Homo sapiens: one gene and its partner. The protein of the gene in region 2 purifies or fractionates together with the protein of the main gene of each other region. This does not show direct contact. Each region holds a gene or a part of one and is shown on either strand. Other genes may lie near its edges.

The links.
Region 1: the proteins of PLCH1 (region 2) and CC2D1B fractionate together in Homo sapiens (co-fractionation; one large-scale study listed by BioGRID). This does not show direct contact.

Annotation. Positions count from the first base shown.
Region 1 is NC_000001.11:52,359,329-52,363,205, reverse strand, and holds part of CC2D1B (coiled-coil and C2 domain-containing protein 1B), read left to right. Parts: intron 1-459; coding exon 460-604; intron 605-1,589; coding exon 1,590-1,693; intron 1,694-2,073; coding exon 2,074-2,232; intron 2,233-2,656; coding exon 2,657-2,782; intron 2,783-2,972; coding exon 2,973-3,132; intron 3,133-3,322; coding exon 3,323-3,501; intron 3,502-3,671; coding exon 3,672-3,747; intron 3,748-3,848; coding exon 3,849-3,877. UniProt on the Homo sapiens protein: Transcription factor that binds specifically to the DRE (dual repressor element) and represses HTR1A gene transcription in neuronal cells.
Region 2 is NC_000003.12:155,489,241-155,494,619, reverse strand, and holds part of PLCH1 (1-phosphatidylinositol 4,5-bisphosphate phosphodiesterase eta-1), read left to right. Parts: intron 1-102; coding exon 103-282; intron 283-371; coding exon 372-479; intron 480-1,766; coding exon 1,767-1,891; intron 1,892-3,751; coding exon 3,752-3,836; intron 3,837-5,379. UniProt on the Homo sapiens protein: The production of the second messenger molecules diacylglycerol (DAG) and inositol 1,4,5-trisphosphate (IP3) is mediated by calcium-activated phosphatidylinositol-specific phospholipase C enzymes.

The DNA of each region.
Region 1 (3,877 bases), on a different chromosome or scaffold from region 2:
AGCCAGGATGGTCTCCATCTCCTGACCTCGTGATCCACCCGCCTCGGCCTCCCAAAGTGCTGGGATTACAGGCGTGAGCCACCGCGCCTGGCCAAAAAATAGGACCTTCTTCTCAGAATTGTGAGAATTAACTGAGGTGGTTAAGATAATCACATAGAACGCTAAGAACAGTGCATGATGGCAGCTATTGCTGTTGGTTGTAATAATGGTAGTGTGTTTTAAATTCTGACTCACAAGACTGTCTCAGTTTCAGTGTGGTCTTACTGGGTTTTTTGTTGAGTCCCTAGGAAGGTAAGTGTCTCAAGGAGTAATGTTGCAGGCCTCAGTTTCTTTCTGCACATTGGGCCTCACAGACTGAAGGAGCCACTGATTGGGACTTGGAGAGCCCCAAGTCTGGCTCTGGAGCTGGACCCTACCCTGCTTGTTGTGTGGTTCCTAAGAGTCCTGCTCTGCTCTCAGATGGGGCTCTTTATGGAGTTTGGCCCTGAGGACATGCTGCTGGGCATGGATGAGGCTGAAGATGATGAGGACCTGGAGGCTGAGCTGCTGGCTCTCACAGGGGAAGCACAAACCACAGGCAAGAAGCCAGCACCCAAGGGGCAGGGTGAGTTTGGACACAGGGCTGGTCTTGGTGCTGGGACAAGATGGGCACAGGCTGGTGGTAGAGGGGTTCCCTTGCAGCTGGACGGAGCCAGCCAGATCCCCTGGTCCTTCCAATACCCATCTGCCGCACTCCCACCAAGAGGCGGCCTCGCCCTGCTTCCCCACCTTGTGTCATGGCCTGGGCTGGCCCCTCCCCATTGTGGACAAATGTGTTTCTCAGACTGACTCAGGTCCCCATCCTTAGCCCTAGCCACGGTATTGGTGTAGGGTAGGGGCCCAGTTAGCACAGACTGAACTGGGTACATAGGAAGTACATAGAAATTGTGTCCAGCGAGTTAAGTGGAATCTCCCTCCACAGCCCAGATGAGAACAGAGACTTCAGGCCTGGGAGGATCAGGAGGTCTAAATCGTCCTCTCTTTTCACCGGGAACCCTCAGAGAATCCCCCCACTCATCCCCCACCATCCTGTGTGTCCCTGAGTTGAGGATAATGGGAGGACCTAGGAAGGGGCTCACTGCTCCTGCCTTGGGGTGGCACAAGCCTAGGTTTGAATCCTAGCTCTGCCACTTAAGGATTGCAGTGATAGGAAAATTAATGTTGGAAGTTTCTCAGTTTATTCAATATATGAAAAGGGGATATTATCCATCTTGCAGATTTGTTTTGAAGCTCTGTTGGACTTTGAAAATCTTTACAGATGTGAAAGGTGTTGTTGGAGGTTGGAGAGAGTGGATGGCCATGTCTATGTCAGGCTACCGTAGGCAGAGGTGCAGAGAAAGGAGCAGCTTGTTGCTTGGTGGGGGGCCAAGGAAGGTTTCCCTGTTGAGGGTCTTTTGAACTGGGTCTTAAAGGAAGAGCAGTTTTCCAGGTGGGACTCTGCTGTGGGAGGGAAGAGGGATTTCTGCCTGGGTGGATCTACCAAGCCCCTCCTTTACTCATCCCTGAACTTATCTGAGTTGTGCTGACTTGTTGTGACCTTTTTCCCCCAGCCCCCCTGCCCATGGCCCACATCGAGAAGTTGGCGGCAGACTGTATGCGGGATGTGGAGGAGGAGGAGGAGGAGGAAGGGCTGGAGGAAGATGCAGAGCTGCTGGTGTGTCTGCCAGGCTGGTATCCCAGGGCTCTGAGGCAAGCTTGGGCCTGGTGGAGGAGAGGGCAGTGGAGAGGAGGCTGGGGGTGCCCCTGTATTCTCTGACTCTGAGTGAGTGCTTGCCCCTCCTGGCTGTACAGTGGGTGGCGTGTCTCTTTGACTTCTGGTCTAAGCTCTGCAGTTGGGGATTCTCAGATTTGGAGTAATTACTATTTTCAAGGCTATCCTCGGTCAGATTAAAGAAATGTTTTGGTGAAGGGGACTCAGGCACAGTGACTGACGTTAGGGAATATTGCTGAGAGAGAGGGTCCTTTACTCTCAGGTCCTGTTGTGGGTATGGTCTTGAGGCCCCCAAGCTCCTGGGCTGTGTTTTGTCTCCCTAGACGGAGCTGCAGGAGGTCTTAGGTGTGGACGAGGAGACTGAGCCCCTGGATGGTGATGAGGTAGCTGACCCAGGCGGCTCTGAGGAGGAGAACGGCCTAGAAGACACTGAACCTCCAGTGCAGACAGCCGTCCTGACAGCTTCAGCCCCAGCAGCTCAGGTGGGTTCTGGAGGAGGGCCCCTGTGCCTCTGATGCTCCTGTGCGCCCAGACGTAACACGTGTGTGGCCTGGCCTGCACAGCAAGGCTGCAGTCACCCTTTCCAGGACCCTCCCCCAGCAGCCGCCCCAAGCAGAAACTGAGCACAAGAAACTCCTCCGTGGCAGCCAGCCTCAAAGGCCTCTCTGTTCTCCTAGACTACCCCCCGGGAGCCATATCCTGGCTTCCACCAAGTGGGGCTCTGTATTTGCCTCTGCCATGGCCTCTGGCCTCTCCAGTGAGCCTTTGCTTCCTGCCTTAAGGCTTTTAGGCTCTTCTTTCTCCTGGAGTCCCAGAGCTCCATCTTCTAGGGCAGCTTCCGCAGAGGGAGAATGGTAGGCCTAGCAGGCCCTGGAGTGGCCAGGCCCTTAGCTGAATTGTTCATAGGCCGGAGCATCTCAGGGGCTACACGCTTTGCTGGAGGAACGGATTCACAACTACCGAGAGGCTGCGGCCAGTGCCAAGGAGGCAGGCGAAGCAGCCAAAGCCAGGCGCTGCGAGCGCGGCCTGAAGGTGAGTCGGGCTAGGCTGGGAGCAGGGCAGGGGAGGGGGCTGCATGAAAGGCGGCTGGTGGAGATCGCACCAGTGGAGGGGAGGTCACCCCACCAGACTTTGGGGGTTGGGGGGCCACCCCTGGCCTGTCTTGGAGCAGGGTCTGGGCTGAGATGGCTGGCTGGGTTTCTGGACCAGTTCTCTCCCTCAGACCTTGGAGTCGCAGCTAGCCTCTGTGAGGAGAGGCAGAAAGATCAATGAGGATGAGATCCCACCTCCAGTGGCCTTAGGAAAGCGGCCCCTGGCCCCCCAGGAACCAGCCAACAGGAGCCCTGAGACAGACCCTCCAGCTCCCCCTGCCTTGGAGTCAGGTATCTGCAGATGCCCAAATCCTGTTCTAGTTCCTGGGGTCATAGCCCACAGCGTGTGTCCCCAGCCTGCCACCACTGTTCATTACCATTGGTCACATCCTCCCCAGGACATCCTCAAGCCAGTGAAGTCCGTGGGCACCTTCTTCTGTGACCCTCATGTGCTCTCTGGGGACTGTTTGTTTCCTTATAGACAACCCCTCCCAACCTGAGACCAGCCTCCCTGGCATTTCTGCCCAGCCCGTTTCAGACTTAGACCCAGACCCGCGGGCCCTGCTGTCATCCCGACAGAGAGAGTACAAAGTGGCTGCCCTCAGTGCCAAGCGGGCTGGAGAGCTAGACCGTGCCCGAGAGCTCATGAGGATTGGGAAGGTATGGCATCTGGCTCAGGGCACCCACCCTCATTTTATAGATAGGGGAAACAGGCTCAGAAAGGGAGCTAGACTGAGATTGAGTGAGATTGGCCTAAGTGGGGGTTGTTTCAGCCCAGGCTCTTGGGGTCCCCTGTCTTTCACCCACACCTGCTTTTCCAACTTCTGCAGAGATTCGGTGCTGTCCTGGAGGCCCTGGAGAAGGGGCAGCCCGTGGATCTGAGTGCCATGCCCCCGGCACCTGAGGGTCAGTATGTATCTTCTCAGGCTGCGGTGGGGTTGGGGAGGAGTAGCAGGCCTGGGGCTGGCCAGGCCCTCCCACCTACACCTCTACTCTGGGTCCCCCAGATCTGAAGCCCCAGCAGGCTTCTCAGGCT
Region 2 (5,379 bases):
TTTTGCTATTGGTATAATCTGACATTATTATAAAGTCTTCTGTGCGTGGTGTTTTCTTTGCTGTAGTTCTCACTTCCTTTTTTCTCGATTAAAAACTGCCAGGAACCACAGGAAATGTGTTATCATTCAGTGAAACAAGAGCACATCAGGTTGTTCAGCAAAAATCAGAGCAGTTCATGATTTATAATCAAAAGCAACTCACGAGGATTTACCCCTCTGCCTACCGCATTGATTCCAGTAACTTCAACCCTCTCCCCTACTGGAACGCAGGCTGCCAGCTAGGTGTGTATTCCTTGGGAAGGAGTGGTTCTCTGTATATTCTCACTATGCCACCATCTTGCCTAATTCTCTCCCACTTTCAACTTGCACAGTGGCACTGAATTATCAATCTGAAGGACGAATGATGCAGTTAAACCGAGCCAAATTCAAGGCAAATGGCAATTGTGGCTATGTCCTCAAACCCCAGCAAATGTGCAAAGGTGTGTATTAATTTCATAGTCATAAATGCAGGTGTGTGTTAATTTCATAGTCTAAATGCAGGCAACCTTTATTAAGGAAGCTGTTTAGAAAGTGTGATACCCCAGAGTTTTTCAACTTTTTTTTTTCAAAAAGATAGGTTAAGGTGTTTGAATGTGAATTAGAATTCTTGTCACCACTACTTAATATTTGGTTAGCCGTGATGTTTAGAATGTTATCTTGAGAGGTCGTGTGTGAAAGAGGGACATGGATAGCATTGGGTTATCACTTGAAATCCAGTGCCCCATATAAGCTGGACTGCTTTTTAAGGTCTGAGCCCAATCTTTCAGAAACTATCTTAAGTAATGTGAGTCTGTGACCTGCTGGGAAGCTTCAATTCCACCTGAAACAATTTTATCAAGCCCTTTTACTCAGTGTAGTCCAATTACAAAACAGTGCTAACAAAAGAGAAAGGATAGGCTGGGCATGGGGGCTGACGCCTGTAATTCCAGCACTTTGTGAGGTCAAGGTGGGCGGATCACCTGAGGTCAGGAGTTTGAGACCAGCCTGGCCAACATGGTAAAACGCCGTCTCTACTGAAAATCAGAATTAGCTGGGCATAGTGGTGCGTGCCTGTAGTCCCAGCTACTTGGGAAGTTGAGGTAGGAGAATCGCTGGAACCCAGGAGGCAGAGGTTGCAGTGAGCCAAGATCACACCACTGCACTCCAGCCTGGGTGACAGAGTGAGACTCCATCTCAAAAGAAACAAAACAAAGCAAAAAAAGGATAATGTGTTAGATCAAACAACACTTTCTTTTGGTTCTGCTCATTAAAATTATTTTTAAAATTTCCAAATTACATATATAACAATTCAGATAAAAAAGTTGTTGACAGGATTATCTTCAAGATTTTACACTTTGCACATTTTCTTGCTCTGCTGTTTACTTAATTTCAAGTCTTCTTTCTGTTTGTTATATTCACTCATGCCTGAGATAGTTTAGGTTAGAAAATTATTTGAATCTGACATAATTGTTCTTCTTTTTACACTGTTGGTGTTCAAATAAAATGCTTCTCTTCCTTCATTCCACAGTTGATCATTGCATTGCAAACACTTGCTTTAAGTTGGCCCACTCCACTGGCCTTTGGCAACATGGTTTCTAATGAAAACCACAGCTATGCCACACTGATAGTTATGTGATCATGTAATTCAGCATTTGTTTTTGTTTGTTTGTTTCTTTGTTTACAAGCTTAAGCTGTGCATGCGTGTGTGTTTCTTCTTATGTTACCAACTTATACTTTACTTGGCCTAGGTACTTTCAACCCTTTCTCTGGTGACCCTCTTCCTGCCAACCCCAAAAAGCAGCTCATCCTGAAAGTTATCAGTGGACAGCAACTCCCCAAACCTCCAGACTCCATGTTTGGAGATCGAGGCGAGGTAAGTTGCCTATGACTACGTGTCTAAGTGGTTAATTATGTGATTATCTTAGTGCATTTACATTTTATCCGAAATGTCTTCAGAGATGTATGTGTGTTCATAACTGAGCACTGACCTCAGCTTATCAGACATTAACTGATTTATTGGTAAGTCACACAGTTCTTGCTGTACTGCTGTCCATCATCTATTTTGAAGGCATAAGAGCACACAATTGAATTCACAATTTAAGGTTGACACTAGCATTGCTAAAATTGGAGTGCAAAGACAATTATATTATTAACAGAACAACACCTAAGAGTATATCTTAACCTAGAAAGGCAATGTTCCGTTAATAATATAACCTCACATTCCTGTCCTCCTGCAATGCTCCTCCCTGCTGCACATCAGCCACCTGCTCCTTGGCCATGTGCTGATTCTTATTATCATCTGCTGTACCTGTGTCGCGTGATTTTAAAATGTCTTCATCTGCGGCCACAGTCTTTTTTCTTTCCAGAGCTCTTAGCCCATTGTTTCCATTATACCTTCTTGGCTTCTGTTTTCTCGCTATATAGCAGCTTCTCCTATGCTCATGCCCTTCCTCTCAGAGCTGATCCATTACTTCAGGTTCTTTGTCACTCCCGCCTATTAAACCATCATTTTTGGATCTTAAGGAAGGAAATCACAGAGCTCTACAATTTGGTACCGCCATAAATGCTTTAAGAAGTCTACTTTCTCTGCTTTAGACTTTCTTAGGTCAGCTCTTTCTAGATTCTTTGGGTTTTATTCCTTCATTGTTCGTCGCCCAGAACTGGTACCAGAAAGGAGAGTCTACAGATGACCAACAATACAAGATATTTCCCCCTAGAGGAGAGGATGGGAATTAAAGTATAAGAATCAAACATGCATAGCTTGATTAATTATTATGCCACCCAGATCAAGGCAGAGTATATCCAGAATCCCTAGAAGGCTCCTGTCCACCTTCCCAGTCAATATCTACCCTCCCCACTGCCTCTCATAGCAAACACCAACCCCTATCACAGCAGACAAATTTTGTCTATTCCTAAACTTTATATAAATGGACTCTTAGAGTAGGTACTCTTTTATGTCTGGCTTGCTCAACGTTATGTTATATAGGAGAACTTTATTCTTTTCTCATTGTTGAGAGTATTCATTGAACACATACTTCTGACCAGGCACGGTGGCTCACATTTATAATCCCAGCACTTTGAGAGGCTGAGGTGGGCAGATTGCCTGAGCTCAGGAGTTTGAGACCAGCCTGGACAACATGGCAAAACCCCATCTCTACAAAAATTACCAAAATTAGCCAGGTGTGGTGCACAATCCTATAGTCCCAGCTACTCGGGAGGCTGAGGTGGGAGGATGGCTTAAACCTGGGAGGTGGAGGCTGCCATGAGCTAAGATCATGCCACTGCACTCCGACCTGAGCTACAGAGTAAGACCCTATCTCAAAAAACAAAATAACAAAAAACAAAAAACGTATATTCCACAATTATCCATCCTACTCATGATAGAAATTTAGGTTGTTTCCAGTGTTTGACTATTATAGATACAGCTGCTCTCAGCATTTGTGCATGGGCAAAACATCTCAGTTCTGTTTGGTATTTGCCCTGAACTAAAGTTGTAGGTTCAGTGGGTAAAGTTGTTGGCGTTAATAAATACTAGCAAACAGTAATTTAATATTTTTTATACTTGTCTCATATATCTGAATCCACCACACCTAGTACCATTTCTTTTTCTTACTAAGCACCTTGTAAAATCAGTTGCTGTCGAAATGTAGACATTTTGGCCAATATTCTCAGATTAATTAACATATGTATAGAAATATGTTATTTGTAATAGTACTTTCTCTTTACTTAATAGATCATTGACCCTTTTGTTGAAGTTGAAATTATTGGATTGCCAGTAGATTGTTGTAAAGATCAAACCCGTGTGGTAGATGACAATGGTAAGATGGTAATCTGTGTTCACTTTTTAATGAAGATGGTCTAGAAATAGAATTTACACTAAAAAAAGTGTCTATGTAGAAGAGCAAGAAATCTCTAAAATCCGTAACTCCCATCTGAGTTTATGTTAAAAGCTTTTCAACACATAAAACTAAGTAACTGTGGAATTGATGCGTGGCTTATTTTTATGGTATTGTAATCTAGGCTCTCTAGACTTTTGCTTTTAAAGGAAATTTTTTTTCTAGTAAAAAGAGTAAATGATATTTTAAAGAATTGGGTTAAAAATTCACTGAGGAAATGCCTCCATTATATGTTTATATTGTATTTTTATGACATGCGTTTTCTCAAAGCTCTCATTTGTGAAGCCTATGTGTCTTGATAATTTCTCACTTTTTCTGGAGCATGTAAAACTCTAAAGGCAAGCACAATATAGTCTGGCGAGTTTACTTCTTGAATATTTACATACGATTGGAGGGGCAGCATTCTTCTTATATTTTCGCCATAATATAAAGAAATTTTTCTTTACCCAAGCCTCATGTCTTTTTATTTGTAATCTTTTAAAATTTGTTTGTTCATACATTTCACAAACATTATTGTATACCTATTTTTCCTCAATCTCTTGTGATTAATACTGTAAAATACATTTGAAGCACAATCATTAATTTGAGAAATTAAGGGTTCACAAGGAGTCCCTGAAGGAACACTACAGTTTCAGAGTAGGGCAAACCTATAACTTAGGAAAAACATGTACACAGAAAGAAACCTTCTCAAATTGCATTTTCCCACCGATGTTCAATAGATTCTTCTTTCTTTTTTTAGTCTCAGAAATAATTGAGAGGTCATCACTAAGTCAACAAAAAGATCTTCTCTGATTCAAGAGAGGTATCTCAGTGATTTTTCAGCTCATAATTATTTCATTAGCTCGAGGCTTTTTGATAGGGTTAAGTGGTTGATACCTCCGAAATGCATACATTTTTAAACACTTATTTTCATTTTTAGAAAGGAAGAAAAACAGAAACTTATGGAGTACTTGAATTTTTAACAACTTTTATAGTTATTTTATTGGAGAGAATTTTACCAAGTAAATGTATTTTTGCATTTTAGTATTTGAGGTGAATTATATACCTTATTAACTTATTTTTCAGTAGCTGTGAAAATATGCCATCATTCATGCAGTAAGGTCTTGCTTCGTGAGAAGCTACTGGGAATCAATAGTGCATGGTCTAATTTGACCCTGTCACTAACTATAAGGCCTTGTGTGGCCTTGGGCACATTATTGTCTATGAACATCAATTTTCTCAACTACAAAATGTCTTATAAATACTGATATTCCCTACTTTAAAAGATGAGTGTTACTTGTACAGTTTTTGAAAGTAATATATTTTTGAAAGTCAGTAATATATATTTTTTAATTAGAAAGAAACAAAAACCAAAACCCTGCTCTACTCTAAAAACTCTAAACATCCTCTAAAAAAAACTTAGAGAATTGCTATAAGAAATAAGAGGATGTATGTACAATAGGAGTTGAAACCTGCAAATGCACCT